Homo sapiens: one gene and its partners. The protein of the gene in region 1 purifies or fractionates together with the protein of each later gene. This does not show direct contact. Each region holds a gene or a part of one and is shown on either strand. Other genes may lie near its edges.

The links.
Region 2: the proteins of PTPRE (region 1) and PCMT1 purify together in Homo sapiens (affinity purification with mass spectrometry, with the first as the bait; one large-scale study listed by BioGRID). This does not show direct contact.
Region 3: the proteins of PTPRE (region 1) and IPO7 purify together in Homo sapiens (affinity purification with mass spectrometry, with the first as the bait; one large-scale study listed by BioGRID). This does not show direct contact.
Region 4: the proteins of PTPRE (region 1) and CORO1C purify together in Homo sapiens (affinity purification with mass spectrometry, with the first as the bait; one large-scale study listed by BioGRID). This does not show direct contact.
Region 5: the proteins of PTPRE (region 1) and TNPO1 purify together in Homo sapiens (affinity purification with mass spectrometry, with the first as the bait; one large-scale study listed by BioGRID). This does not show direct contact.
Region 6: the proteins of PTPRE (region 1) and CPVL purify together in Homo sapiens (affinity purification with mass spectrometry; one large-scale study listed by BioGRID and IntAct). This does not show direct contact.
Region 7: the proteins of PTPRE (region 1) and STATH purify together in Homo sapiens (affinity purification with mass spectrometry; one large-scale study listed by BioGRID and IntAct). This does not show direct contact.

Annotation. Positions count from the first base shown.
Region 1 is NC_000010.11:128,063,473-128,067,926, forward strand, and holds part of PTPRE (receptor-type tyrosine-protein phosphatase epsilon isoform 1 precursor), read left to right. Parts: intron 1-2,602; coding exon 2,603-2,722; intron 2,723-4,454. UniProt on the Homo sapiens protein: Isoform 1 plays a critical role in signaling transduction pathways and phosphoprotein network topology in red blood cells. May play a role in osteoclast formation and function.
Region 2 is NC_000006.12:149,808,171-149,812,303, forward strand, and holds the end of PCMT1 (protein-L-isoaspartate(D-aspartate) O-methyltransferase), read left to right. Parts: intron 1-2,445; coding exon of another isoform or gene 2,446-2,458; 3' UTR 2,459-3,249; downstream 3,250-4,133. UniProt on the Homo sapiens protein: Initiates the repair of damaged proteins by catalyzing methyl esterification of L-isoaspartyl and D-aspartyl residues produced by spontaneous isomerization and racemization of L-aspartyl and L-asparaginyl residues in aging peptides and proteins.
Region 3 is NC_000011.10:9,439,198-9,443,651, forward strand, and holds part of IPO7 (importin-7), read left to right. Parts: intron 1-1,257; coding exon 1,258-1,464; intron 1,465-2,883; coding exon 2,884-3,000; intron 3,001-4,454. UniProt on the Homo sapiens protein: Functions in nuclear protein import, either by acting as autonomous nuclear transport receptor or as an adapter-like protein in association with the importin-beta subunit KPNB1.
Region 4 is NC_000012.12:108,658,117-108,662,570, reverse strand, and holds part of CORO1C (coronin-1C), read left to right. Parts: intron 1-412; coding exon 413-542; intron 543-3,651; coding exon 3,652-3,833; intron 3,834-4,454. UniProt on the Homo sapiens protein: Plays a role in directed cell migration by regulating the activation and subcellular location of RAC1. Increases the presence of activated RAC1 at the leading edge of migrating cells.
Region 5 is NC_000005.10:72,892,610-72,897,063, forward strand, and holds part of TNPO1 (transportin-1), read left to right. Parts: intron 1-529; coding exon 530-637; intron 638-767; coding exon 768-926; intron 927-1,006; coding exon 1,007-1,094; intron 1,095-3,848; coding exon 3,849-3,947; intron 3,948-4,446; coding exon 4,447-4,454. UniProt on the Homo sapiens protein: Functions in nuclear protein import as nuclear transport receptor. Serves as receptor for nuclear localization signals (NLS) in cargo substrates.
Region 6 is NC_000007.14:29,066,532-29,070,985, reverse strand, and holds part of CPVL (probable serine carboxypeptidase CPVL isoform b precursor), read left to right. Parts: intron 1-4,454. UniProt on the Homo sapiens protein: May be involved in the digestion of phagocytosed particles in the lysosome, participation in an inflammatory protease cascade, and trimming of peptides for antigen presentation.
Region 7 is NC_000004.12:69,994,264-69,999,313, forward strand, and holds the start of STATH (statherin isoform a precursor), read left to right. Parts: upstream 1-1,702; 5' UTR 1,703-1,762; intron 1,763-4,159; 5' UTR 4,160-4,174; coding exon 4,175-4,225; intron 4,226-5,050. UniProt on the Homo sapiens protein: Salivary protein that stabilizes saliva supersaturated with calcium salts by inhibiting the precipitation of calcium phosphate salts. It also modulates hydroxyapatite crystal formation on the tooth surface.

The DNA of each region.
Region 1 (4,454 bases):
GAGACATGAATCTTAGAGTTTTAGGATGTTGAGCGTGTCATGCGGCAGAGCTCAGGCTAGAAATGAACATGATTTCGCGCTTATTATCCAGACTAGAGAAATGCTTTTGGAAAACGTTGGTATATTGAAGAAATGTTGATTTGTCATCCGAATATATTTAATTAGCTGTTTCTAATTCAAAAAAGGATGCATGTACGTTATAAGAATTTGAATCATTGACAAAGAAGAAAAGTTGAACTGATTCGTTTCCTAATGTAACAAGTACTCATTAGCATCTGCTGTGCTGGGCCAGCTCTGTCCCAGGTGCAAGGAGTAGGGGCTCAAATTCAGGGCTGAGAAGTGGTGGCTGTGGGGAGCCTGGGTGCGGGGGTGGGGTTGAGTGACAGGCAGGGAGCCATGCCATAGGCAGTGAGCTCACTCTCCAGAATGAAAGAAGAACTGGGAGCCTGAGGGACACTTACCACAGGTGGGGCGAAGTTAGGAGGCTGTGCTTCTGGCGTGTTCTGGCATGAAGGCCCGGTTCAGTGGGAGCCGTGTGTCCTGCCCGGCCCTGCTCAGGGCCTGCTGTGTCCTGAGCTCCTCAGTCATCTGCTGGCCTGGCCCCAGCAGTTCCCAGGCATTGTAGCGAGGACTGTGGGGAAGGGCTGCCATTTTTAGATGGGAGTACCAGGCCTTGGGGAGCTCAGCTGGGGCAGAAGATGGGTGGCAGGAGCCCACAGGAAGGGCAGGCTGGGAGGTGCTCTGGTCCCCGCAGTGCCAGCTTACTAATTGCCACCCAAAACACAGGAAGCAGCCTCCAGCCACCGTTTCTGGTCAGGAATAGGATGGAGGCTTTCATTCTGCTCTGGGGGGAGCTGAAACAGGACTGTGGAGGGCCACCCCTTTGCCCTTGCAAATCTTGCCCTTGTCATGCTTTGTCATGGGGAAGAGGGAAGAGTGACAGAGGGAAGTAGGGGATTCCCAGCCCAGGACTCTTCACTCTGCCTGCGCTGTAGCGGCCATGGAGGAGGACACCCACGCGAGGGAAAAGGAGGCTGACCCTTCATCAGGAGCCTCAGGGTCCCCCGTGACCCATGGCCCATAGGGACCAGTCTTCCTGGGGTTGGTGCTCCAAGCATGAGACCAGCACAGAAGCAGTGGGGCTCAAGGACGCCCTCACTTCCCTCTTTCAGTCATTCTGCTGAAAGTGTCACTGGCATTTTCTCTCCATCTTCCCCCACAACCTCCTACTGGATTTTTCCACTCCTGTGACTCAGTGCTGGGCTGCTGCCGCGTCCTCATTCTCACCAATTCAGATGAAATCATTTCTCAATAGAGTTCCCTTTTTCTTAATTGCTCACACTTCTGTTGTGGTTTCCTTGGCTTCCACATCCTGGGCTCTGCATTGCAAAACACAGCTGCCCTGGCATCTCATGATCGGGTGGGAGGGAGGCAGAGGGAGGGGGTATAAAACCAGCCACCAACACTGAGCCCTTGAGAGGCTGACACATGTTCTCAGTTCCTACTGGAGAGCCTTCAAGGTGAGAAGCTCAGGAGGGACCCCAGGGCTCCCCATAGGGCCAAGACTCACCCAAACCGGGACATGTAGGCATTTGCAATTCCCCTGGGCTGCATCAGAGATGGCCTGTGACCCACAGCCCCGCAGCCCCGCCCGGAGCCAGGTGTAAGGAGGGGGAAGTTGTCGGTAGCCGTCATAACACAATGATGCTGCTCTCTACTAAATACCAGATGCTGTTTGTTTCATAAGACTGTTAATCCTGGAGGCTTGACCACGAGCTGTGCTGCTCAGGGGCCATTCCCTGGATATACTCTCTGACTACTGGCAGGCTTGTTCCATTCCAGACATGTTTCTCTGGCAGATGAAGTAGATCTTTTCCCCCTTGAGGTGGGTCCTCATTCACTCGCGAAGTGATGGAGGACACCACCGGGCAGGTGCTGCGGGCGGTGCTGCAAAATGAAAGGGCTCCTGGAACGTGTATTTTGGGTCATTCTTGCTTCAGAGGTCGGGAAGGTAAAGAAATGGGCCTGTCTGTAGCAATGCACCCTCTTCTGCAGACTCCACGGCAGCCTCGTCCCTGCTAGAGAAAAATGAAGATCGTTAGACCAATCATAGGTTCATCACTCTTGAATGGCAGACTGGCAGTGGTGCAAATTAACTTTGTCCTTAGTGAACTGAGCAGGAAAAACACAAATTGCTGAATCCAGTGGGAAATGTCTGGGGGGAGCACCGTCCTTGCCCTCTAGCCTGAGGGTCACTTGGAGTTAGGTGCCCAGCTCTGAAGGCTACAGGCTCAGCATAACTGGTTGATGGTCAGTTAATAAAATGTATGGGATTCGTGAATGAATGAAGAAATGAGACATTGTTGCTGTCTACATCAGAAAGCCTTGGGGCATCCTAGTCATAGTTTCAAGGCTGCTGTTCACCAGTTACGCAGCCTCAGTTTCCCCATTCAAGAGGTCGACACACGTGAACTTGTTTCTCAGCTGTGGGAGCTGTGTGACTCCAGCTGGTGTGTGTGAGGCCTTCTGTAGTTGGGTGGGGGGATGTCATGATGCATTGCACCCACAGATCTATTTGCTTCTATTAAATTGTTCCGTGCAGGAAAAGTGCCATCAGTACTGGCCCGACCAAGGCTGCTGGACCTATGGAAACATCCGGGTGTGCGTGGAGGACTGCGTGGTTTTGGTCGACTACACCATCCGGAAGTTCTGCATACAGCCAGTAAGCATCTCTAGTTGCTGCCCTTCCAGAAAGATCATTTTCAGAGAGCATCATGCCCAGAGTTAACATCCTTCTGCATTTATGAAGTGCTTTGCTCCCAGCCCGGCACTGTCGCAGCCCTGGCTGAGAGGGTGCAGTGGCCAGGCTGTGATAGGCAGACATGCAAGAGGGCCAAGACACCAGAGGCCGGTGCACAAGGGTCTGCAGGCAGTGCTGGGGGCTCCTAATTCCTAGTGACTCCTCTGGGCCTCTCCAGGAGGAAGACCAGTCATTGGAGGGGCCTGGGGGTGAGGTCCTCCCTCAGTAGCACAGTGACATTTCACACACTGACTGGGAGGTGGGGTTTTTTTCTAACACTTTCCGAATTCTGTCTGAAACCTCCTCGTTATTTTCCACACTTGGGTTCTGCTAGTTCCACCACCCCAAAAGGTTTAAGAGAGAGATCAGTAAAAATATGTGTATGCAAAGCAGATGAAATCAAGATATAGAAGAAAGTTTAAAACCATAGAGAAAAGACAGAAGACCATTTTGTCAGGATTTAAAGATACAGTCATTGGCATAATTAGGTCACAAAATAAGTGTCTGAGGTTCCAAGAAGCCACAGCAAAAAAGGAAAAGGATGAGCTGATTATTCTTATCCTATCCCCTGCTGGCATCTCTCCCAGAAATGTGCACACAGGCGCACACAGGCACTCACATGCACACGCACACACATACTCCCACACACAGGCACACACATGCACACATGCACATACACCCACACACAGGCATACACATGCACACACACCCACACACAGGCACACACACGTACACCTACCCACACACAGGCACGCACATGCACATACTCCCACACACATGCATGCACATGCACACGTACACCCACACACAGGCACACACATGCACACACACGCACACAACCGTACAATGCATGCACGTTCACACACACATGTGCACACACACCCCACTCACATGCACACATGCACACATTCACACATGTGCACACACATACACCCACACACATTCACATGCACACACATGCACACACGCACACACATTCATGCACATGCATACATGTGCACACACACGCACCCACACACGCACAGATGCACACATGCACATTCACACATGTGCACACACATACATCCACACACATTCACACACGCACACGTGCACACATGCACACATTCACACATGTGCACACACACATACACGCACATGGGTGCACACGTGTACGCACCCACATTCACACATGCACACACATGCATACATGTGCACACATTCACACGTGCGCACATACACACATTCACCCACACATACATGCGCACACATGCACACATACACATGCATACATGTGCACACACATGCACACACATCTACTTCCAAATACGCTGTGTATCACCTTCCGTGATCTGGGCAAGGGAATTAAACTCATGGGCTCTGGGTCCAAAAGCTGAGAGAGGCTCTGAGGGCAGGTCTGGGAGACTCCAAAGAGCAGGCCGACTGCATCATCTGTCCTCCCAAATGTAAGACAGCTTTGCCCAAGGAAGGATGTGCTGTTGGTGATTACTCAGCACCACCGGCCTGAGGTGGGACTGTCCAGGCAAGATGGGCCATGGCCGCCCTGCTTGCACGGGGGTCTGTGAGCACACAGACCAACTTTGGGGATGTGTCTGGCTGCTTGGGCCCTGCCTGACCTGGGCATAGACGGTTGCTGCGGGCCCTGTTCTGTGGC
Region 2 (4,133 bases), on another chromosome or scaffold:
TCTAATAAATAATTAAATTATGTATAATTATATACTAGTAGAAATATATACAGTTATTAACCTAATGAATATATTTAGCATAGTATATAGCAATTTTAAAGAGCCTTTCTAAAAATTTAGTACATACTATTTTTTATTGTAAATGATCTATACATGTAAGTCAGATAAAGAAATGGTCATACAGAATTTTGAACATTGGGGAAAATTTAATAACTTGAAAGTTACATGGATTTTAGAGTATTAGGCTTTTAAAAAATTGTGCACGCGCTGGCAGCAAGTTTTTGTTTTTCCCTAGCACCTCTAATTTTAAAATTCAGGTCTATAAACCTAATTTCTTTTCCTTTTTTAAAGTATTTTTTAGACAGAGAGGATAGTTGGAAAAATGGTACCTATGTTGTTGAGGGGGCATTAATTTATTTACAGTATACTTAATGTCTTGCAGCAGGTAAATTGTAGTAAATTATTATTATTATTATTGTTTTCTGAGATGGAGTCTCGCTCTGTCGCTCAGGCTGGAGTGCAGTGGCGTGATCTCAGCTTGCTGCAACCTCCGCCTCCCTGGTTTAAGCGATTCTCCTGCCTCAGCCTCCCGAATAGCTAGGATTACAGGTGCATGCCACCACACCCGGCTAATTATTTGTATTTTTAGTAGAGACGAGGTTTCACCATGTTAGCCAGGATGGTCTCGATCTCCTGACCTCATGATCCGCCCGCCTTGGCCTCCCAAAGTGCTGGGATTACAGGTGTGAGCCACTGCCCCTGGCAAATTGTAGTAAATTATTTAAAAATAACAATATCTTTGGCTTGGGCATGGTGGCTCACACCTGTAATCCCAGCACTTTGGGAGGCTGAGGTGGGCAGATCACTTGAGGTCAGGAGTTCGAGACCAGCCTGAGCAACGTGGTGAAACCCTGTCTCTACTAATAATACAAAAAAAATTTAGCCGGGTATGGTGGTGCCTGCCTGTAATCCCAGCGACTCGGGAGGCTGAGGCAGGAGAATTGCTGGAACCTGGGAGGCAGAGGTTGCAGTGAGCCATGATCACACCACTGCACTCCAGCCTAGGTGACAGAGCGAGACTCTGTCTCAAAAAAAAAAAAAAAAAAAAAAAGCCAAAACAAGAAAAACAATATCTTCAGTTCATATTCTAAAAAGCAGAAGTGAATTTTACTTTATGAATAGAGCACTTTGCAAATAATTCTTTGTTGACCAAATATTTTAATGCCTGCATGAGTTAAGTAAAAGCTGTTCTATGAGAATTATAACATTGTTATTTGGAAGAATATATTAAGAGGAAGCAGACTTATGATTTGTCATTTAATAGATAATCCAATACTATAGGATAAAGGCAGCTTATTGGAGAAATGATTTTAAAAATATTTTCTTGCACAATTTACAAAATTTAGTTTAAAAAAATTGTCCAGTAATTTACCCCCACTTACTTGTGAAATTATGAGCTCTTTATTTCTTCTTCCCTTCAAATTTATCTTAACAACTTTTTCAAAACTTTTAACTTTAATTTTTATTGCCAACAAGTTGCTAGGATAGTACAAATAACTCCTAAATCTCTTCATCCAGAGTCATCAATTATTATCATTTTTCTACATTTCTTTCCCCTCTTTCTATATATACATATATGTAATTTTTTTCCTTTTTCTTAAACCACTTGAGACTTAATTATCAATATCATGCTTCTTTACCCCTAAAGTTCTTGTTTTTGTCACTCACATTACCTTCAGCTATGAGGCTTGTGGGCTTCTCTCGTGGTTTTATTCATTTTTTCACTTTTAACAGTTTTACTGAGGTATAACTGAGATACCATACAGTTTATTTTAGACTGCATTTTTATTCCTTCCTTCCTCTCACTGGCAGTTGCTGGTACAGTGCTGCACCTGGCTGAGTGAATGGTTTCTTTTGGAGCTGATAAAGCTGCCTTATGAAATCAGCTGACAGGTATATTATACCTACAGATGATGCCTTTTCTCTCAGAGCGCTTGGGTTGAGATTGACCCACTCCACAATTGCTAGTGGACATTCTGAGCAAAAGACCACATTTCTGTCCAATTTTGTGAATGTAACTATCAACTCATTTGAACTCTAAAACACTTAAGTTGTCATTTTACTATAGTGTAAAGATGACCGTAGATCTAAAAGATATTTTTTCTGAATTTTGACATTGAAGGAAGAAATCTATTTTTAGAAATCAAAAATGAAGAACTCACGCCCTTTAGGTTGCATACTTGGTTCTGGAGTGGCATGGAAGATGTTTGGAATGGCTGACCCTCTGTTGCTTTCACTTGGGTTGTTTGCATTTTTATTTTTTAAATATATTGCTTGGTGATCAGCGCATTTTTATTGACTTAATAGTTGTGTCTAAACTATTATAAAGCCAAATTGGGTAGTGTGTAACTCCTACTAATGTATTTCTCTCTTTTTTCCTCACAGGGATGAATTGTAAAAGCAACATCAGCTTGACCAGTATAAAATTACAGTGGATTGCTCATCTCAGTCCTCAAAGCTTTTTGAAAACCAACACCATCACAGCTTGTTTTGGACTTTGTTACACTGTTATTTTCAGCATGAAAATGTGTGTTTTTTTAGGGTTTCTGATTCTTCAAAGAGGCACAGAGCCAAATTGGTAGAGGAAGGATGCAAAGTATAAATTTGTGTAATATTACTTTAACATGCCCATATTTTACTTGGAAATATTAAAAGAAAGGGTTCTGTAAAATGGAAAACTTAGTTTGTGAATTGATTTTGAGGAGTGGTTTTTCTTTTCTTGGACACTTAATTCTGTTCTGATATTAATTTATCAGATTGCTTTTGTGCATTGGATAACACCACCATTCACAAGTTAAGATTCTTGGTATTTGGATATCTGTTAGATGCTACTAAGAAAATAGAGATGAGCTTTCTTTTTAAAGCTTTTGATGTGGTGTCATAGAATAGCATGTTGTAGATACAATCAGCTGCTTTGTTACCTTAAAACTAGGCATTTGTAAATATTAAACCATAAGATGGCAGGTGATGTCCTGTAAACACTCAGCTGTTCAGATTGGACATAACTGACTTAGTTCTTCCCTTCTCTCTCTCTCAAAATTATAGGAGACTTGTAGTTTAGTGTGGTTTTCTGTTTCTAATTTGCTGCTGATAATGTATATGAACTTAACATGCTGTGTAAGCTGTGTCCTAGTTCTTGAACAGTTTATGCAGTGCTGCTTTGCCAAATAAAGTTAAAAGTAAAAGAGGCATTGGTTGTTTTTGAATATAGAAGGAAGAACAGCAAGTCCACCAGATAGGGAGTGTTTACGATCATGGGAAAAAGACTGTTTCTCTGGTTGTTTCCTTTTGCGAAGTCTGAGTAAGTAATTAGCATTAATCCAACTGTACATTGTAGAATGTGACTACACTGCTCCAGGGCCAGGACCGTACTTCAGTCGTCATTTCTCTTTGACTCCCTAGCCCAGGGCTTGCCCTGTAGTAGCTATACAGTAAATGCTGGTGAGTGAGTGAGTGGTGAATGAATCGACTTAAAGTCAGGAAAGAACAGGATTGAGGGTGAACAGACCAAAACCCATCTCTCACCTATACAAAGATTTATTAATATAATGACTATAGCTGAATTTCTAAGAAGGCAGTAGCACTTTGGGATCTTATTTAAATGTTGTGATTTATAACTTTTATAAGAAGTAGTTCTGGAACTGAGGAAATATAAGCTCCAGAATGAGCAGAATCAGCACTCCCAGCAAAGCCCTTCTACTGGGTGCATGTGTGGGTGCGTAATTCTGGCAAAGAACCTTCGTGGGCATGTGAACACTCCCCCCAGCTCTTGAAAAAAGTCTTAAATATTACTTCTTTACAAATGGCTTTTAGGCTGGGTGCGGTGGCTCACGCCTGTAATCCCAGCACTTTGGGAGGCTGAGATGGGCAGATCACCTGAGGTCAGGAGTTCAAGACCAGCCTGGCCAACATGATGAAATCCCCTCTCTACCCCTCTCTACTAAAAATACAAAAATTAGCTGGGCATGGTGGCACACACCTGTAATCCCAGCTACTTGGGAAGCTGAGGCAGGAGAACTGCTTGAACCAGGGAGGCAGAGGTTGCAGTGAGCCAAGATCGCGCCATTGCACTT
Region 3 (4,454 bases), on another chromosome or scaffold:
ATCTGCCTCCCGGGTTCAAGCAATTCTCCTGCCTCAGCCCCCCAGATAGCTGGGATTATAGGCACGTGCCACCATGCCCAGCTTATTTTTGTATTTTTAGTAGAGACAGGATTTCACCATGTTGGCCAGGCTGGTCTGGAACTCCTGACCTCAGATGATCCACCCTCCTGGGCCTCCCAAAGTGCTGGGATTACAGGCGTGAGCCACTGCACTGAGCCGTGAAACCCCATTTCTTTAAAAAAAGTTGTGGGGATTACATGAGGGAATCCTTGACGCTTAAATAGTGCTTGGCAGATGGCACTGAATTAACAGTATTAACAAAGGTACACATATCATTATAGTTACTATTACAAGATTTATGGGGGTTTTTTTTGTTTGTTTTTTTTTGTTGTTGTTGTTGAGACGGAATCTCGTTCTGTCGCCAAGCTGGAGTGCAATGGCAATCTTGGCTCACTGCAACCTCCGACTCCCGGGTTCAAGCGATTCTCCTGCCTCAGCCTCCCAAGTAGCTGGGATTACAGGCGTGTGCCACCACACCGGCTAATTTTTGTATTTTTAGTAGAGATGGGGTTTCACCGTGTTGGCCAGGGTGGTCTCAATCTCCTGACCTCATGATCTGCCTGCCTTGGCCTCCTAAAGTGTTGGGATTACAGGCGTGAGCCACCGCGCCCGGCGAATTATGGGGTTTTCATTTTATTTTTAAGCTTCTAAAGATTTATGGTCTTAATGTTGACTAAATTTATTGGAGACATCCATCCTATCATCTATTAATTCTAAAACCTAAGCATACTTGCACTATAACATTATGTTAATTAAATGTTGATAAATACATTTTATCTATAAGACTGTACACTATCAGTGTATAAATTGATAAAATATTAAGAGAAATTATTATAAGGGTTTCAACATAAGATAGCTATTGCTATTTTTGTCTTTTATCATTTACTAACTTAGCCAGCCTTTTAAAAAAAATCTTACAAAAGGTTTGGTGGGTGTAACGGTAGTGTGTTCATACTGCGCAGTTCTTTTTCAGATGTCTAGTATTAAGAACACATTAAATCAAGGTTGGTTTTCTTGGACTCCTATGGAAATTTTCATTTCTATTCATTATTGAACATGTATTTAAACACCAATTCCTGGAGCTCTCTCTTGTCACTTGTGACTTGTAATTTACTGACAGTGATTGAGATGATTGTCAATTTGTTGAGTAACAAAATATGTCATTGTTATAAAAGTACTTATATTATGACTTGGCAGAGGAACTGGGGAGTGATGAAGATGATATTGATGAAGATGGGCAAGAATATTTGGAGATTCTGGCTAAGCAGGCTGGTGAAGATGGAGATGATGAAGATTGGGAAGAAGATGATGCTGAAGAGACTGCTCTGGAAGGCTATTCCACAATCATTGATGATGAAGATAACCCTGTTGATGAGTATCAGATATTTAAAGCTATCTTTCAAAGTAAGTCAACTTGTTACATGTGGATCCATTTCATTGAACAAATCTGTTGTAGTTTCTGCCTGCCCTTTAAAGGAAGAGTTTGGAGGATATCAAACCCAGACTAGAAAAGGCTGGTTAGGCAAAGTAACCAAAATTATTTCTAAGGTTGCCATAGTTTCTGAGTATTCTTTATTCATCCTGTTATTTTACATTTAGATTGTAATTTTGGAAGATTATAGGAAAATAATGTAGTTCAAAAAAGTATACAGTGACAGTGCCTCTTTGCTACTTCTGATTCCCAATCTCCCAGCTTTCCTCAGAAGTAACCACTCTTACGTGTATACCTGTTTGTTGTATGTTATTATTTGTGTGTATCCTTTTTTCCTGCCCAAACCTATACTTAACGTGTTAAGAGTATATTAGCATTTATGGCATATGATCTTATAATTCTTTTTTTCCTATATTCTGTGATGTGTTAACTAATTTAATCTATTATTACTAAATTAGCACTTTCGGCATAATCAAATTTTTAGCTTTAAACAACTAATTTAACCTTGAGATTTTTGAATTATATATGCCTAGGATTCTGGAGCCACGTACACTGTTAAATATTCCAAGAAAAGTCCACTGTTCCTATAATGTGTCATTGTATGTGGCTCCAGAATACTAGGTTCTGGTTGGTTTTTACCATCATTTACTTGGATTTCAACAAGGTATAGCATTTGTGTTTTACCATCCACGTTAAGAAATTAAATTTCCCCTGTATTTGAAACATCTTTTCCTCTCAGAGTTAATTGCTGTTATATATCATTTCCTATGCACTGGGAACTGATGAATATATTTTTTGATAGAATACATTATCTGATAACCAAGGATTTGAGTCTTCTAAGCCCATGACAAGGCAGTTTTGATGCAAGGTTACAGAAGCACAAAGTGCTGGTTTCTGAGCTACATGGCAGCAAGAACTGATTGAGGTGCCAAACTTGTTGTTTCTGTGCCTTGTACTTTGTAGACAGACACCACATGTCAGTCCCTAAAGAATGGTTCCTAACACGGGGCCCATGTACCACAGTAGCCTTGATGATTTTCAAGTTGCTTTAGCTCTGAATCTTTTAAGATGGTTGGGTTAGCTTTATTCCTGAAGTCTCCCTGGTTTGTTACTTACTATATAAGAACTAGTTAGGCTGAGTCCTTATTTGCTGGAGAGATGGATCGTAAGAATGATTAGAGTTTTTGGAGCCATAAAGATAAGCTGTAGTTAATTTTTATTCCTATATCTGTTGTTTCACAAATATGGTAATTTTAAAAATTATTGGGAGAATATAAAATAGATCAGAATTTCAGTATTGCCTCGGGATGGAGTAGGAGGAATAGTGTAGAACGGAGCTACCAAGCCTCTCTTATTCATGTTGTTTTTCCCTTGTTTTTATTTTTTGATAGCTATTCAAAATCGTAATCCTGTGTGGTATCAGGCACTGACTCACGGTCTTAATGAAGAACAAAGAAAACAGTTACAGGACATAGCAACTCTGGCTGATCAAAGAAGAGCAGCCCATGGTATGTTAATTAACTGTAACTCCTCTTTAATTAGTGACTTTTATAGGTTTAAAATTTTATATCGTTTAATTTTATATCATTAAATTTTATCATTTAAGATGATATAAAAGGTATAGTTGTTGCAGGTGATAGGAATTAACTCTAATCTGAGGGATTTAATTCAAGATAACTTAATTTTGGCTTTGGCTACAGTTGGCTTTTTTCGTTTTTTTTTGTTTGTTTGTTTGTTTGTTTGAGATGGCGTCTTGCTCTGTCGCCCAGGCTGTAGTGCAGTGATGCGATGTCAGCTCACTGCAAGCTCTACCTCCCGGGTTCATGCCATTCTCCTGCCTCAGCCTCCCAAGTAGCTGGGACTACAGGCACCTGCCACTACACCTGGCTAATTTTTTGTATTTTTAGTAGAGACAGGGTTTCACTGTGTTAGCCAGGATGGTATCAATCTCCTGACCTCATGACCCGCCCGCCTCGGCCTCCCAAACTGCTGAGATTACAGGCGTGAGCCACCACACCCAGCCCCAGTTTGTTTATTTTTAAGTATAATTGGGCCAGGTGTGGTGGCTCATGCCTGTAATTCCAGCACTTTGGGAGGCCACGGTGGGTGGATTGCCTGAGCTCGGGAGTTTGAGACCAGCCTGGGCAACATGACCAAACTCTGTCTCTACTAAAATACAAAAAACTAGCCAGGCATGGTGGCACATGCCTATATTCCCAGCTACTCAGGAGGCTGAGGCAGGAAAATTGCTTGAACCTAGGAGGCGGAGGTTGCAGTGAGTTGAGATTGCACTACTGTTCTCCATCCTGGGCAACAGAACGAGACTCCATCTCCAAAAAAACAGAAACAAAAAAAACTAGAGAACACAGCCAGACATGGTGGCGCATGCTTGTAATCCCAGCTACTTGGGAGGCTGGGGCAGGCAAGTCCTTGAACCCAGGAGGCAGAGGTTGCAGTGAGCCGACATCACGCCATTGCACTGCAGCCTGGGTGACAAGAGCAAAAGTCTGTCTCAAAAAAACAAAAAAAAGTACAGTTGAAGACTACTTTCAGTTTGCAATAACTTTAGCTCATGGTGATGGTTAGATAGTAGAAAGTTCTGTTAAAAATGTAAACACCTAAGCCGGGCGCAGTGGCTCACACCTGTAATCCCAGCACTTTGGGAGGCTGAGGCGGGTGGATCACCTGAGGTTTAGAGTTCGAGACCAGCCTGACCAACGTGGAGAAACCCCATCTCTACTGCAAATACAAAATTAGCCAGGCGTGGTAGGCATGCCTGTAATCCCAGCTACTCGGGAGGCTGAGGCAGGAGAATTGCTTGAACCCGGGAGGTGGAGGTTGCGGTGAGCCGAGGTCGCGCCATTGCACTCCAGCCTGGGCAACAAGAGCGAAACTCCGTCTCAAAAAAAAAAAAAAAAAATTTAAACACTTGGCCAGGCGTGGTGGCTCATGCCTGTAATCC
Region 4 (4,454 bases), on another chromosome or scaffold:
AATCCCAAATAATATTAAATAAAAGCTGAGAGGAAATGTTTTGTAGTCCTTGTTGGTATCCTGATCTCCGATAACATATTACATTTTAAAAACAGCCGATACTTGGGAGTCTGAGGCAGGAGAATTGCTTCAACCTGGGAGATGGAGGTTGCAGTGAGCCGAGATCGCGCCACTGCACTCCAGTTTGGGTAACAGTGTGAGACTCCGTCTCAAAAACGAAAAACAAAAAACAAAAAAACAAACAAAAAAAAAACCGCCTAACACGGTCATTTCACAACATTCTGCCTTTCATCCAGATATCACTCTATGTTCTGTTTACATAGAGCAAATCTTTATAGTGGATGGTCACTGTAAATGTGATAATGAAAGGCAATAGCTTTCATGTGGATCATCTTTCTTCCTTGTCCAACAGGTATGGCAGATCCCAGAAAATGGACTCACCCTTTCCCTGACTGAACCTGTGGTGATTTTGGAAGGCCACTCAAAGAGAGTCGGCATCGTGGCTTGGCATCCAACGGCCCGCAATGTGCTTCTTAGTGCAGGTGGGAGCTGAGCTCAGCGGTCCTCCCCTTGTCTTCCACTCTTGTGGCTCTCTGAGTGGGGGGAAGCAAATGTGTTTTGGTTGTGTGCTATATGGTTTTAAAGCAGATTATTAGGAAACCATGGTGAAGAGTATTGGGGTGCACTGCTCCCCCAGCCCACATACATACTTGTGTGTGTGTGCACGTGTGTGTGTTTCAAGGCCATTTCGACAACCTGAGGAAAGCTATGAATTTCCTGCTATAATTTCAGCAGGTTTCATGGTTCCTGCCAGGGCCCTCCATGAACCATAGTTTTGGTTATTTCTGATATGGTAGAAGGTGTACTTTGTTGGGAGCCAGAAGCCCTGTGTTCCCTCTGTGGTGTTGCTGCCAGCTTTGGGAGACCCCTATTAGGCAAATACACTCCTTCCTTTTAAAGAAAACTTTGATTTTCCCCTGCTATACAATTAGTACATGTATACTGTAGAGAACATATATAAACAAAAGGAAAAAAAAATCACTTTTAATCCCACCACTCAGAGAGAAGATCATTATTACTTTTTTGATGTTTCTTTCCGAAAGATATTTCTGTGCACATACATAAATTATTTTACATACAGAGATGGGTTCATACACTTTACACATGGGCTGCTTTCTGCACTTGGTGGTAGGCTGTGACCCTTTTCACGTGCCATTAAGCTCTCTTCCTATTTTTAATGACTTCATACTAATCCATTTTCTGGATATACCTCATTTTACTTGATAAGTCCCCTATTTCTGGACACTGGTGTTGTACAGAAATCTTTTCCTTTATCTAAAATTGGAGATTTCATTTTCTTTTATGAAAGCAATACAGAGAGCATGAGGGAACTTTGTGGGGTGATGGAAATATTCTGTATCTTGATCATAGTAGTGGCTACATGAGTTTATACATTTGTTGAAACTTAGCAAATATATACTTAAAATGGGTGCATTGTATTGTATGTAAGTTATACCTTAATAAAAGTGGTTTATTTAAAAAGTGATACTAATGTTAGAGATAGGATTTTTAAAGGTCTTTCCCCTCACCAGTAAAAAGGAGGAGGGGCAGTTCAGTTTTTAACTGGGAATACACAATGTTTATGACTCATAGTGAGTTAAATAAAAAATTATAATGCCAAGTAACTATTGAAACTAAGGCCCACTTTTCAAAAAAGATGCCATGTTTTTTATAATCACCATCGACTATACTTGGGAATCATTTTTGATGTTCTCTCAGAACCTCAGTCTGATTAAGGAGAGGAAAAAAATTCCAGAGCTGGAATTCCTTCATGGAAAATTCCCTGCTACCTTTCTCATCAAGGCTCAATACAGGGCAGCAGCAACAGACTGGTCTGCATTCTCCCTTTTACATGTGAAGGAGAATGGGTGATTGTCGTGTTCTGCATATTTTTAGGCTATATGATCCAGCTGCCGGGGCTGAAGTTACCTGTTTGCCTATAGGGAAGAAGGCAGAGGAAGGTTCAATTGTCCATCCCAGAGTTTAGCTTCAACTTTTGTTACTGTTGTGTAGTTTTTTTCTCCAGTTTCCTACTTCTTTTTTTTTTTTTTTTTTTTTTGAGATGGAGTTTCGCTCTTGTTGCTCAGGCTGGAGTGCAATGGCATGATCTCAGCTCACCGCAACCTCCGCCTCCTGAGTTCAAGCGATTCTCCTGCCTCAGCCTCCCAAGTAGCTGGGACTACAGGCATGTGCCACCACACCTGGCTAATGTTGTATTTTTAGTAGAGACAGGGTTTCTCCATGTTGGTCAGGCTGGTCTCCAACTCCTGACCTCAGGTGATCTGCCCGCCTCGGCCTCCCAGGGTGCTGGGATTACAGGCGTGAGCCACCGTGCCCGGCCAGTTTCCTACTTCTAACCCTTAGGTAACTTAAGTATCCTGGATGTTAGTGACTATTTTTTCTAAATGATTTCCAAATTGCTTTGTTGGCAAGAATCCACCTCTAGGATGTCCTTCCCGTATTTTGCTTCATCCTTGAACTAACATCCTAGGAGCAACACATGCTGCCTCTTTTTAAAGGGGCCTGGAGGCGTGGGGCAGACCCTTGAAGGAAGGAAGGAGTTGGTGAGCTGAGATGGTGAATGAGTTGACATTGTGGGCTTCTTTCAGAATCCGTTTCTGAATCTATGTAGCTACTTGATTACAGTTTGGGCTTCTCACCATGATCAGAGCAGTCTTGGCCTATTTTTCTCTTCATTTAAAGGTACAGATCTGTTGTGAGCAAACAGGCCTTACTCTTGGCTTTTCCCTTCCACTGTTGTACCATCTTTAATATCCCAAAGCTGTGTCTTAGAGTCTCACTGATTTGAATAACCTGCCACCCAGAGTTTTTGTTGAGTGCCCTAAACAGTCATTTAAACCTTTTACTTTTAGTTTATTTGGCACGTGAAAAGGGTCACAGCCTACCACCAAGTGCAGAAAGCAGCCCATGTGTAAAGTGTATGAACCCATCTCTGTATGTAAAATAATTTATGTATGTGCACAGAAATATCTTTCGGAAAGAAACATCAAAAAAGTAATAATGATCTTCTCTCTGAGTGGTGGGATTAAAAGTGATTTTTTTTCCTTTTGTTTATATATGTTCTCTATAGTATACATGTACTAATTGTATAGCAGGGGAAAATCAAAGTTTTCTTTAAAAGGAAGGAGCGTATTTGCCTAATAGGGGTCTCCCAAAGCTGGCAGCAACACCCTGATGCTTGTTTTACTAGAAAGGGAAACTTGAAGTCACTTGGGTCTACCAGCCCAGTTAACTCTTTAAAGAAAATAGGGTTCTGTTTTGGTGTGGTTCTTTGTTTTTGTTTGGTTGATTGTTTCATATGAACCCAAACTTAACAAGTTGTGTTTTTACTTTAACACTTTTATTTCTTTTATACAAACTTTTTCCTTTGTCACTTCAGTTTTTAACGCTGTTAGTAAGTAGGGCCTCTGGTAGGGCCTCTGACAATCAGCCGCATCTTTTCTCTCTCTCTCTTTCTCTCTCTCTCTCTCTGCATATACATATGTGTATTCTCACTGTATCTGTAGTTTTCTGAGTGTGTTACATAGGTGTTTCTAATCTTCTAATCTCTGATGGTTTTGCCTGTTTTAGGCTGTGATAATGCCATTATCATCTGGAATGTGGGAACAGGGGAAGCCCTTATAAACTTGGACGATATGCATTCAGACATGATTTACAATGTGAGCTGGAACCGGAATGGCAGTCTGATCTGCACAGCTTCCAAAGACAAGAAAGTGAGAGTCATTGATCCCAGGAAACAAGAGATTGTTGCTGTGAGTATTCCTAGGATGAAAACTCAGTAGTTGGAGCACTTGAGTGAGTGTGAGCTTTCTGCTTTTTAAGGCAGGCAGCGGTACTGGTCAGTGGGACCCTGTTGTGTGTAGACACCAACTGTGAATAAGAGAAGGCTTATAAAGGCTTCTGTCTCCCCAGTTGTGCTTCTCTCCAGAGTTGTAAATTTTCCAGCTTTTACTCAAGTCTCTCACTTTGTAGCCTTTTTTCACAAAGAAATAGTTTGTATCAGTTCACTAGAGTCCTTAAGAGTTTATAAGTCTTGATCAATTAAACCAATTGGCTGCATTCCTGATTTTGCAGCTTAGTATTGAATATTGATGAATCAATTCCTCACCCTTTTCCAAACACAGCTGTTAAAGATGCAACAGGTGGCCGGGCATGGTGGCTCACACTTGTAATCCCAGCACTTTGGGAGGCCGAGGTGGGTGGATCATTTGAGGTCAGGAGTTTGAGACCAGCCTGGCCAACATGGTGAAACTCTGTCTCTACTAAAAATACAAAAATAAATAAATAAATAAATAAATAAATGCGCAGGGCGAAAAGCAACAAGTTCTCTCATCAGCTCAGTGTCTTAGTTTCTGCCACCCAAACTGGACCTC
Region 5 (4,454 bases), on another chromosome or scaffold:
GCGATGCTCAAGTCCCTTATATAAAATGATGTGGTATTTGCATATGGCCTATGCACCTCCTCCCAATATACTTTAAATCATTTTAATTGTTTTTCTAAATACTTTTGATTCAAGATTGGTTGAATCCATAGATACAGAGGGCCAACTGTATATATATTACTTTCCGGCAGGATCTCAGAATGTGCCCAGTAAAGTCCATTCACAACATTGACCAGGATGGGAGCATGAAATGAATCTCTTCAATTTGAGGGAAAAATATGAACACATAATACTCAATCTGTCCTTTAAAGATAATGTTTCTTGTAGAAACGCTTCCTCTGAGTAAACCTGACCTGATTGGCTGGCAAACTAACAACAATGAATGGCTTCCAAAAGAGAGGGTTGGGGTGGGGGGAGGGGAACCTGCTACTGTAGAAACTAGTAGAGCAAGCTCATAAATGATCAGGATCCTGTTGAGCGCAGTTTCAAGCATTCATCATAATCTTCAGTATACCCAGAAAGTTTAGCATGTGTACTTTATTCTTCCTAGTGCCTATCTTCAGTTGCCACAGCACTGCAGTCTGGATTCCTTCCGTACTGTGAACCTGTGTATCAGCGTTGTGTAAACCTAGTACAGAAGACTCTTGCACAAGCCATGGTAATTTTTTTAAAATGTCTTCCTCTTCTTGACATGGTGGACATTTTTCTAAAGATAGGTATAATGTATACAGACTTTTTAAGTAGTTAATTAAAACCAAACTTACAAAAAACATTGTGTCTAATTTCAGCTAAACAATGCTCAACCAGATCAATATGAAGCTCCAGATAAAGATTTTATGATAGTGGCTCTTGATTTACTGAGTGGCCTGGCTGAAGGACTTGGAGGCAACATTGAACAGCTGGTAGCCCGAAGTAACATCCTGACACTAATGTATCAGTGCATGCAGGTGAGACTTGAAAGGTGAAAATGAATTGAAGCCTGTTTCTCTGTGTCACATTGGGGTTAATTTCTTCTTATTTCTTGTAGGATAAAATGCCAGAAGTTCGACAGAGTTCTTTTGCCCTGTTAGGTGACCTCACAAAAGCTTGCTTTCAGCATGTTAAGCCTTGTATAGGTATGAATATTTTCTACTGCTATGAATATGGTTTTTTAAAGTTAACATTTACATCAGCTTTGTTTTTTTATTATTAAACTGAAATTGCATGGAATCCCAACATTTATAAATGTACACTTTATTGGTTAAAGTAAACTTGCTGTGATTGAAACAGGCAAGATGGCAGGAACCCCTAATATTTCCTTGAGCTTGCCATCATCTCAGCTTTTTAGGTACTCCTGTGACTGGAGGAAAGCTTAGTAATATACTTTAGAGTAAAGGACATGCCCACCAGGGAAGCCTTGGTACCATGGACTAGTTAATAGATTCTTTTTTGAGTAGCCACCTTTTTGGTAGAGGTACACAGAAATAGTAATAATCAGGTTTTCTTCTCTAGCAAACCAGCATACTTTTTCAGATATTGCAGAAAACTTCCAACAAATGTCACTTTAACTGAGACTGGGCCTGGGGGCTCACACCTGTAATGCCAGCACTTTGGGAAGCCAAGGCAGGCAGATCACTTGAGGTCAGGAGTGCGAGATTCGAGACTAGCATAGCATTTGTCTTGGCCTTCTGTGACAATGATAAGAAATTCCTTGAATGTTGTACCCGGAATTGTTCTTAAACCTATGGGTTATAAATGAGTTATGGGATTTTTTTCCCCCTTTTCTGCATCTCAGCATGTTGGGTAACAATTATTTTAATACAGCCGGGCACGGCGGCTCAGACCTGTAATGCCAGCACTTTGGAAGGCCAAGGCGGGCAGGTCACGAAGTCAGGAGATCAAGACCATCCTGGCTAACACGGTGAAACCCCGCTTCTACTAAAAATACAAAAACTTAGCCAGGCGTGGTGGCTTGTGCCTGTAGTTCTAGCTACTTGGGAAACTGAGGCAGGAAAATCGCTTGAACCCGGGAGGCAGAGTCTGCAGTGAGCTGATACTGTACCACTACACTCCAGCCTGGGCAACAGAGCAAGACTCCGTCTCAAAAAAAATTATTTTAATACTTCATTTAAACCTTAATTTAAAATATTAATTGAATGTTTTGTCATCTGATATAATTGTGCTTTTGGATAACCATTTCTCAAAAAACTAACATAATTAACATTAATTATGATATATTAAGAACCATCAAGTTTAAACCTAACAGTGTAATGAATTCTTATGGGAAGCTTATCATTCTCATATTTACCACCTAATTTAGTTTTTTAGTTGAAACTTATATGAAAGGATTTAATTTTTTTATTATAAAGTGTTTAAGACGTACAAAAGTAGAAAAAATGTAACAAACCTCCTATCACCCAGCTTCAACTGTCCAGTCCTGTTTCCTATATACTGTTGTCAGTGGTGAGACACATAGATCTCAGATATTTTGGAGCAAATCTCAAACACAGCATTTGAAGTCTTAATATTTTAGTACATACTATACTATCTCTTCTTACAATTGTTTTTTGTTAAAGAAACCATGTTTTTTATTCTAAAGAGTTTCCTTTACTGTGGATTTTACTGATTGCATCTTTGTTGTCTTTAACATGTTCCTCTGTCCGTTGTATTTACTGTAAATTGTTTGGATACAGAGACTGAGGTTTAATGAGATTTACGTTGTTTTGTTTTTAAGACTTTATAGATGGTATTGTGTACTTAGTGTACATAGTGTCTAGTTGTCCCTCCTTTTTTTTTTTTTAATGTTACCAATCTTGATGATTGTCTCAATTAGTGGTTCTCAACTAGGGGCAATTTTGCCATTCGGGGAACATTTGCCAGTGTCTGGAGACATTTTGTTTGATGCTGGAGAGGTGCCATTGATGTCTAGTGGGTAGAAGCAAAGGATGTTGCTAAACATCTTATAATACAGGAGACAGCTCCCCTTCCCCCCAACAAAAAAATGATCTGGCCCAAACTGTCAATATTGCTGAGATCAAGAAACCCTGGCTTACATCTCCTGATTTATTAGGAGTTTAAAAAATTATGATATTCTAATTCTTCATTTAATAATGAAGATACTTATATAGGGAGACATTTCCCATATCAATAAATTACTATCCTGAGGTAAAATCATATAGCAGAGGCAAGATAAATACTTGATTCTTTTTTTTATTTACCAATTTTCAAAATAATGAATTGATTCCTATCATCCTCCAAAGGTATCTTTGATGTTTCAGAGTTTTGTTTTTGTTTGATTGTTTTTAGTGCTAGTGTGACTTCATGATGTTCAAGCTGTTGTACTGCTTGCAGTGAGAACTTAAGTTGGCTCCCGAGTCCTTTCATTATGACAAGATAGTCCACTTATTTTGCACATTTCCTGCCTTTGCCTGTAATGTGACGTTTTCTGAGAGTCCATTTTTTTTTAGTGGAAAATGTTATTCAGAGACCACAATCAGAGCACAAGAGTGAAAATTGCTTTAAAAGCCAAAATCATTGATTTTTTTTTTTTAGTCTAATTACAAGAGATTACTCTGACCAACTCTTTTTAGTGGTATGTAAAATATACCCAAACTTGTATTTCCTGTTCCACATTATTTGAAAGTTCATTGGCCAGATACTGTTTTCTTCAGTTTCTTAAGATAAACATTACCAACTCCTTTAAAAAATATTTTTAAATACAGTTGCCTAGTTTATTTCCACCAATTTTAAAATTGATGTTGCAGTAATTTTTTTAATGGTGAAACTTGTTATTTCTTGCTTAGATTTCTGTTTCCACCTAGTAGATTTCCTTTAAAGTACAATATACTGCTATTGAAAAGTTTACTACATAGTTTAAATTTTTTTTCTAGCTGATTTCATGCCAATATTGGGAACCAACCTAAATCCAGAATTCATTTCAGTCTGCAACAATGCCACATGGGCAATTGGAGAAATCTCCATTCAAATGGGTAAGATGTTTTTCCCTATTTAAAAGCATAAGGCCTGGCGCGGTGGCTCACGCCTGTAATCCCAGCACTTCGGGAGGCTGAGGCGGGCAGATCACCTGAGGTCAGGAGTTTGAGACCAGCCTGGTTGACATGGTGAAACCCCGTCTCTACTAAAAATACAAAAATTAGCTGGCGTGGTAGCGGGTGCCTATAATCCCAACTATTTGGGAGGCTGAGTCAGGAGAATCACTTGAACCTGGGAGGCAGAGGTTTCAGTGAGCTGAGATTGCACCACTGCACTCCAGCCTGGTGACGGAGCGAAACTTTGTCTCAAAATAAATAAATAAAATATAAATTTTTAGGTGCCTTGATATTTTTGTAATTGCTTTAATTTTAATTATTTGTATTTCTATATTTATATGACATGTCAGAGTTAATACGGGAAGCAAAATATTTCACATTGATATTTTAACGTTCAATTTTTTCTTTTTTGTTTTTTTCTTTTTGGGATGATCTCTAGGTATAGAG
Region 6 (4,454 bases), on another chromosome or scaffold:
GGCTTTAATTTGTTTGTTATTAGACACATATTCTGTAACAGTATATCTAATGTCGTTATTGTTATTAAAGCAGAAATCTGATATTAAGTCTTAAGGGCATTGCAGATCAGCCAGTTCAGATCAAAATAGGAGACATGCAACCTTGGAGAAAAGGGTAGAGGATAATACAAAGTTATTTTTCATTTTACAAGTAGGGTGTTGGGACACTATCAGAAATCCCCCAAGGCAGTGACCGCCCTTGCCGTGAATTCTGATAGCAGCTAGCTGTGCAAATGGATGGAGCAAAGGGAGTCCTGAGCCATCCTACAGAGCTCCACCAGGCTCTCCTTTCTCTGTGTCAGGACACTAAATGTGGCTGCAAAGTGTGGATTCAGAATTTCTTATGCAATTGTAAACACAAAGGAAGAGGGGTCTCCTGGGGCACATGTAGGATCATGCTTCCACTTGCAATGACAGTATTTTCAAGGCTTTCTGCTGTGGTAGTCACAGAGGGGACGAAGGAGTGAAACTTCAGTATTTAGAATTAATACCAAATTTTATGTGGCATGAGACCAATTTGCAATTGAAACATTTGATATGTTTTTAAAGAAGCACACAGGATAAAGCAATTGTCAAGAGCAAGAGCATTTGAGAGGCCCATATTTAGAAAAAAAGCAGAAAGATGACTGGTACATAATGCAGCAGGCTAAACACCTACAGGATTAGTGAAGCTGTAGAAAAGTTCAGGTGTGTTGTGTATTCAGAGATAATGAGAACATGACCCACGAGGTGAGAATCTCTCCCAAACCGGATACGTCAGAAACCGGAACCCCAAGCAGGTAAAACGTTTGAAGGCTTGGAATGTCTTTTTGACCATTGGTCCCGTATCTTGAGTGATGAATTAAAACAAGACCTTTGCTTTTTCAAGGAAAATAGATAAAATGATACTTAGGACAGTAAACAACTTGTGGTTGAAATGTGTTTCAGTGACTGCAAAGGAAGACTCCAACAAATCCTGAAACCCAGGGGAATATAAATGTCAGAATCTCAAGCCTAAAATGATAAAGCCTGTTTGACGCTCTGATCCTTTAAAATGATTTAATTAATCAAAGAGTAGTAACTCAGAGCTGGAGAGTACTCTGGAGATAGGTCATCTACTGTCCCTATGCATTTACATGCACACACACACACACACACACACACACACACACACACACACACACACACACACACACATTTACTGGTGAGTGGAGAGGATGCCGAGCCCCAGGGGATAGCAATGAATTGCCGAAGGATACACAAATAGATTGTGGCAGGCTGAGGACTGGAATTGCTTCCCCCATTTCCACCACAGTATTTATCCTATGGTAATTTTCAGGCATTCTGTAAAAATCCTGGATCGTCTTAGATATTCTGCAAGATGTGAAATGACTGATCCTCTGTCCAGTATTACCTCCCTTTCCATGATGATTTTCTGAATCACAAAGTTCTTAGTTTCACAGGTCTTGACCACCCATGTTATTTTTTGACAACAACTGACTTTTTCTTTTTTTTTTTTTTTTTTTTGAGACGGAGTCTCGCTCTCTTGCCCAGGCTGGAGTGCAGTGGCAAGATCTCAGCTCACTGCAACCTCCACCTCCCAGGTTCAAGCCATTCTCCTGCCTCAGCCTCCCGAGTAGCTGGGATTACAGGCACTCGCCACCACGAATGGCTAATTTTTCTTATTTTTAGTAGAGACGGGTTTTCACCGTGTTGGCTGGGCTGGTCTCAAACTCCGGACCTCAAGTGATCCGCCCGCCTCGGCCTTCCAAAGTGCTGGGATTACAGCTGTGAGCCACCATGCCTGGCCAACAAATGACTTTTAACTCTTTCTAAAAGCAAAGTTATTCTTCAAGGTTGACTTTATATTCCCACTGGTGTTGAAGATAATTTCTAACAATGAGTTCCAAAAATGATGTGTGCATTCAGAATGACCCTGGCCTATGGTGCCCCATCTGGGTGAACAAATTAGAAAAAGACACCTCGGCCGGGCGCAGTGGCTCACGCCTGTAATCCCAGCACTTTGGGAGGCCGAGGCGGGCGGATCACGAGGTCAGGAGATCGAGACCACGGTGAAACCCCGTCTCTACTAAAAATACAAAAAAGTTAGCCGGGCGTAGTGGCGGGCGCCTGTAGTCCCAGCTACTCGGGAGGCTGAGGCAGGAGAATGGCGTGAACCCAGGAGGCGGAGCTTGCAGTGAGCCAAGATCGCGCCACTGCACTCCAGCCTGGGTGACAGAGCGAGACTCCATCTCAAAAAAAAAAAAAACAAAGAAAAAAAAAAAGAAAAAGACACCTCCTCTGTGGTGATGCAGTCCTGTGGGTTCAGGACGGGGCAGGCAGATGCCTCCATTGTGTGAGGATAAGAGGTGGCCACTTCTCCAGATGCAGCCCTGAGCCAGGCTCTCCAGCTCAGCGAGCAGAACTTTGGCTGGTTCCCTGTCCCTTTGCACCCCTTAGCCACAGGCATCGCATGGAGCTGCACAACCAGATGTGGGGCCCTGAGCAATGGTAGCATTGGTAGAGAATACTTACTACCACCTCCACCCACACCGCCTTCTATGGTGATAACCCTTTTCATTCTTGGCCTCTAGCCCCATGGCAATAGGAACTTGAATAAGTTCTTTCATGTTTGAAAAAGAATATGAATACAGGCCGGGGGCGGTGGCTTACACCTGTAATCCCAGCACTTTAGGAGGCCGAGGTGGGCAGATCACAAGGTCAGGAGTTCGAGACCAGCCTGATCAACATGGTGAAACCCCGTCTCTATTAAAAATACACACACACAAAAAAAAATTAGCTGGGCGTGGTGGCAGGCGCCTTTAATCTCAGGTACTCGGGAGGCTGAGGCAGGAGAATTGCTTGAATCCGGGAGGCAGAAGTTGCAGTGAGCTGAGATCTCACCACTGCACTCCAGCCTGAGTGACAGTGCGAGACTCCATCTCAAAAAAAAAAAAAAAGAATATGAATATAATAATTAGTCTATTTTCTCAAGCATTGAAGCATGGCCAGAAGGAATTGGCAAGTAGGAAGCATTGCAGGCTGACTGCTGGGAGCCAGTGTGTGCGTGGTTGAGTGTGCAGGCTCAGGAGTCGTGGCCTAATCATCTCATCTCTGACATTATTAGTGAGGTGTCCTCGGCAAGTTGCTTAAACTCATGTGTCTCAGTTTTCTCACCCATAAAATTAGAATAATAATACCTTATCTGATAAGAGACCTAAATTTGTACTTGATAGATTGTTTTTAACATGTGCTGACTTCATTTCTTTGAATTCTTTTGTAAGAACTCCTTACAACTTAATATCATCATCAACAACCCCCCTCCATGTCTTCAACCTCTTCTGTGACTATTTTCTTCTCTTCATCTTCTTGCTTTGCCAGAAACCTGGCTCTCCCCTGATGCTGCAGTCCCTGTGGTCCTCTTGAGTGGGGGCTGTTCTCTCTCTTAGCTTGTCTGTATCACTTGGTTCATAGGTGGAGTAGGTGTCTTCCTTGCTCATCATGTGACTTTCAGATCATGTTCCCTGCCTCCTCCTAAAGCATTGAGCTTTGACTCTCCTGTCCTCAGACAGGGCCTCTGACCACTTCCAACTGTGTCTGCCTACCAACCCCTGGTTACTCCCTCTCATTTGAATAGCTGAGCTCCTTCCTCCCTGTCACTCTCTGCAGCATTATTCTTGTCATAATTCCTGGTAACTGCAGGATCCACATTGACGATCCTTTTGGGACCTGGTCCTTGGTGCCTCAGCCTCCTCTTTTTCAATGATCTTGTTCTCCTCCTCATCTTAGCTGCTGATTCTCATACCCTAAAATGCTGGCAGCTGATCCACAATCACACATTCAAACATCTTTCTCCAACTACCACCTCCTGTCCGAATCTCTTCTGCTAATGTACTGATCTTACAGCCCTGCAACCTCACTACCTTTCAATCCATTGATCCTCCTGCCTCTCCACTATCTCTAACCCCCTCAAGTCTCCATTTCTCTAATTACCTGTCTTCAACCCAGGGTCAGTCATTCCATACATTTCCAAGCCCAAAGCTCTTTTGCATTTCTTCCAACTCCTTTGGCTGAACCACAGCCCTGGCTCAATCTGCCTCTCTGTCAGGCTGTGCTTGTCTCCACACAGCTGACAATGGCTGGAGGAAAGCATGCAACCATGCTGACTGCTCTCCCGCTCAGCTGGTGACTGGGTTTTTTAATGTCAGCCCAAAGATAACTTCCACCAGCTCCAGGAACCTGCATCTGCACCATATCCTGCGTCTTCTCTCCATGTCATCTGGTGAGCAGTTCATGATCCATGTTAAGGCACCCTTCCCACAAGGCTTACTCCCATAGGCAAGGCCTTTGAGCTTACTGTGTCCTCTGCCTGGAACCTTCCTTCCCCTAGATGTCTGCATGGCTCTATTCCTCTCATCCAATATGTCTTTACTCAA
Region 7 (5,050 bases), on another chromosome or scaffold:
GATAACACATGTCTGTAGTCCCAGCTAAACATGAGGCTGAGGTTGTAGGACCACTTGAGCCCAGGAGTTCCAGGCATCTGTGAACTATGATCTCACCAATGCACTCAAGACTGTGCTATGCAGCAAGACCCCATCTCTGGAAAAATAAAATAGTTACTGAACCCTATGTAACTTTTTTCCACTCAGAATGTAAAGAGATTGTGTTTGTTTTACACATGAGAAGAAACTTTGTATCTATAATGCTTATAAATCTCATGACAAAAGAATAAGAATAATATCTATCTAATTTAATTTGAATTATTTATTTGCCTTAAGAAATGATTTATATTTTCTTGTATATTACCCAGAGAGTAATCATAATTTCCAGTAAGGCTGTTCCAATACAGCATAAAAATTTACCTAATAAATACTTCCTTAAAAAATCTGATACAAAATTAAACCACAAATTATCTTTACTGGTTAAAGCCTAAGGATAACTAATGCATTCAAGAGACAAATATGTGGTTGTTTTTTTTTTTATGTTTTTGTGGAGATACGGGTCTCACTATGTTGCCTAGGCTATTCTTGAACTTCTATGCTCAAGCAATCCTCCTGCCTCGGCCTCCCAAAGTGCTGGGATTACAGACATGAGCCACTGAGACCAGCCTTGTTTCAAACTTCACAGTACCCAAAGAATCACCTGGAGATAATGTTAAAATGCAAACGCCTTAGGACAACCCCAAGATTCTGACTCAGCAAGTTTGCGAAGGTGGACTAAGAATTTACATTTCCACAGGCTCCAGCTGATGCTGTCTGTGATGTTCCCATATGGCACACTCTGAGGAACAATGCACTAGGCTGTATAACTTACCTCAACTTTATATATAAGTTTTTGATATTCGTTTCTTAGTACATTGAGTTATCCAACCAGCAGTGAGTAGGGTAATTTTTACACAAATTTTCCTAGGAATGTAATGAAAACATTTTTTCCTTCACTCTAGTGTAATCATGTCAACACATGGCTGCTATGGAAAAATATGTAGCCTTAAAAACTCCAGGAAATTAAATTGAATTTCCAAATACATATATTCAGTCATATGTGAGATATGTATCAGTGAGCACTTAGAGTCATTTCACCATAAATATAATAATTTTTTATCATATAGTACCCAAAAGATTACTGAATTTGGCAAATGTTTACGTTCACTTTGTAACTTAAAATATTCTAAAGTCAATAGAAGATGGTAAAAGTATGAGATAAATAATGATTTGAAGAAAAACTCTTGAAGTATATGAAGACTGTAATTTTATTATGCCAGTTACCACGAGTTATCAGAGAACATGTAAAATCTTGATAACATGGTAAGTATTATTTGTGTCATAGAGTTGTTCCACCTTGGACACATACTTGTGGAAACATCTTTATCACTGCAATTATTTCTATGCCTGGTTTCCTCCAGCATGCTTTTCTGTCATCTGACTCACTCAGCGCTAGACTAACAGTGGGATTAACATGCAGTGGGTACAGTTGTTTCCTGGTTACTTTGTCTTCACAATCATCTATTGCAAAATCACTTTGTTACGGTTATTTTTATCATTTGTAGAGACAGATTTTGGGCATTACTTTTAGTTTCCATAATGTGATCTCATAATTGCCATTATTTAACAAAAACAAATGGGGGACTTCAGAGTGTTTAAATACATTGGCCCTCTAGGGTAGCACATCATCTCTTGAAGCTTCACTTCAACTTCACTACTTCTGTAGTCTCATCTTGAGTAAAAGGTAATATGTTCATGTATAATCGAATATGTTGTCTTAATCTAGAGTGTTGCTTCCTAAAATCTTTTGAAAACTAATTATAAAAATGTGTATTTATGTAATGATAATTTCTCATAAAGAAACAATTGAGAGAAATGATGACCTTCTTAGGATCTGAAGGTAAGTTGAGAATCTGAATAACTATACATTGAAATCAGCAATCATCATGCAAAGTAAATAATGTGGAATATGGAGACATATTCCAACTTCTCTCCTGATGGAACTTCTGAAAAGCTTTTTATTTCCTTGTCTACGTACTGGCATCTACTCTGCTACTTACTACTTTTACCTTTATTCGAAGTTCATATTTTAAGAAAATAGCATACGTTCTCTTTTTTGCAAATGTATATATTGTTTCACAAGTTTAACTTTTAAAAATTTACTTTTTTCCCATAAGTAAACATTTCTCACTACCTTTTCATTGACCTTTCCATCATTTTAAACAGTTATGTCATTCTGCATAATAAAAAATGTTGTATAACAGTCATGCTTTACTGCCTTACTGTTTTATATTACTTAAGTTGTTTTCATTCAGTTGTGATATGGCAGAAAACAAAGATTTTACTATTTCATATTTTTATTATTTTTCATTGGGGAAATATTTTTTTAAAACCATGACATATATATTTATATATCTATGTCTATATATCCATCTTTCAGTTTATCAAGGTTAGTAAAACAAAACTACTCTTCTATGAGCATTTTTTGATTCCATACTTTCAATAAAATTTACAGGTATAAAATACACTAAAGTTTTTATGCTTTTTGCATCATAAAATGACTGATGGGTAGGTTTATCTATCAGGTGATAGAAAAACCCCAAAGTACATATTATTTTTACACTTACTCTAATACCAGAAATTTCCTTTTTTTTTTTTTTTTTTTTTTAATTTGAGACAGAGTTTCGCTCTTGTTGCCCAGGCTGGAGTGCAATGGTGCAATCTCGGCTCACCGCAACCTCCACCTCCCGGGCTCAAGTGATTCTCCTGCCTCAGCTTCCTAAGTAGCTGGGATTATAGGCACTCACCACCATGCCCAGCTAAATTTTTATTATTATTATTTTTAGTAGAGACGGGGTTTCTCCATGTTGGTCAGGCTGGTCTTGAACTCCTGACCACAGGTGATCTGCCCACCTTGGCCTTCCAAAGTGCTGTGATTACAGGCATGAGCCACCACACCCGGCCAGAAATTTCAGTTTGAATAACTGAGGCAAATCAGTGAATAAGTAACAAAGCAAATGCCATAAATCATGAGTTCTGCTTTATGTTTTGGAGATTTGGGGTTATTAATAACAGTAATTTTTTTTATAATTAGGTAAAAAATATTCTTGTAATGTTTTATCACAAGTTATTGGTAAAAGAGATTAAAATAATGAAGACCATTACCTTTATATGAATTACTCTATAGTTTTCAATAAACAGGTAAAAATGTCATTTATTTGTAACTCTTGTGGCAATTATGTGTTTCACTGAAAATGTCTTTATTTAGATGTTTATAATTTACAAATAAATAATCTAACGTTTTTTGTTTAATAACAAAGGAACTGGGTTAACTGGCTTATACTGTTTATGATAACATATCACAGTCCCAGATAAGGTTAATTTTGTTGAATGAGATTATTTAAAATATTAAGTCATCTTCACCAATTCAACTTCTCAGAGGAGGTACGAATATTTTCTCTGTGACTTCTTATCAGTTTGATTGTTCTCTACCCAGTATCATTAATGTTCTAATCTGAAGGTGACCCCATTTTTGCAACTCTCAAGACAGAAATCTGGCTCATTTTCAGTAACATTATAAAGCGATTGCCCATTGCTGGTCATTCTAACATCCAAACATCTCTTTACACTGTACCTTAAATATCATCCCTAATGTCATTATTTAAGGCGCCCCATAATATCCAGTTCTATCTTCCCTACATTTTGAACTGTTCCAGTTTTATCTTCTGATAAACTGCTCCAGTTTTATCTTCCCTACATTTTGAACTGTTTGCACTTTCAATATGGTATCCTCCCTCTTTTTCATTTTCTTGCAGTCACCCAACACCTCTTTACTCATCCTGCATAATCCAACTCAAGCTTTACTTTCTTCTTTACCTTCATACCCCTATTCTCTTGGTCTGTGTAAGGTGTTGATTTGTGTGTTACTCTAATGCCTTAGCATTTCCATATCAATACACTCACTTTTACTTATCAGTGTCTCCAACAAGTCTCCAAGTTTCATGATGTCAGGCAATGGGTTTTAATTGTCTTTCTATCTGGAGTGTGTCTCCCAGTGCTTTGGAGCGTAGTATAATCAATAAACTTTTGATGGGCGAATGCAAGAAAAAATGTGATACTGAATTTCCACATATGTTTTCAGAGAACCCAGCCAACTATGAAGTTCCTTGTCTTTGCCTTCATCTTGGCTCTCATGGTTTCCATGATTGTAAGTATATCAGGACATTTGAAGAATATGTTCTCAGTACCTATCCCAAGAGTCTCTCTATTCCTTGTGTTCTGGCATATATTGGTGTTTACTTGAATACAGCTTTATATGTTTAAATGTTTCCATATGAACTTTTTTTTGTACTAACCTACATAAGCTATATAAGGATTTAGAATAAATAGTCATTATTCATCTACAGACACTAAAGTATATTTAGCTTAGTGTGAAATAAAAGAAAGTTTTACTGAACTTCTTAAATATGTGGAACTGAGAGCTTCTAAAAGTATCTTTAAACATGTAATGCTCTAGACAATCTGAAGTTAGAAATCTCAGGAATGAACTAGGTGCACTTGAGTGGAATTCAAGTATTAGAAGATGTCAAAGTAGAAATTTTCAAGTCATTCCTTGCAAAAACTAACTTAAAATTAGTATACAATTATTTAGCACACACTTTCTAAAATAAAGCTGCTTATTTTTAACTATAAAACAAAACTTCAGATCTATGACATGTTATGAGTTCCCAGCTTTTATTGTCATTTACTACTATGTATCACTAGGTAAAGCACTTGACTTCTCTGGAGCTCTTTCTTCTACTCTACTTCCTTCTATTTCTCCTGTCCCTTTTCTATGACATTAGTAGGAAACTGGCCATGAAAGAATAAAAATAGTTCAACTTACCTGGTAAATTCTAACAGATATTTCAAAAACTAATTTGATTATAAAATCACAGTATACCACATTATTTGTTATAAAAGGATAGGTGTCTAAAAAATAAAAAATAAAAATGTAAGGAAAACAGAGAAAAACATAATGCTTGTCTCTGTC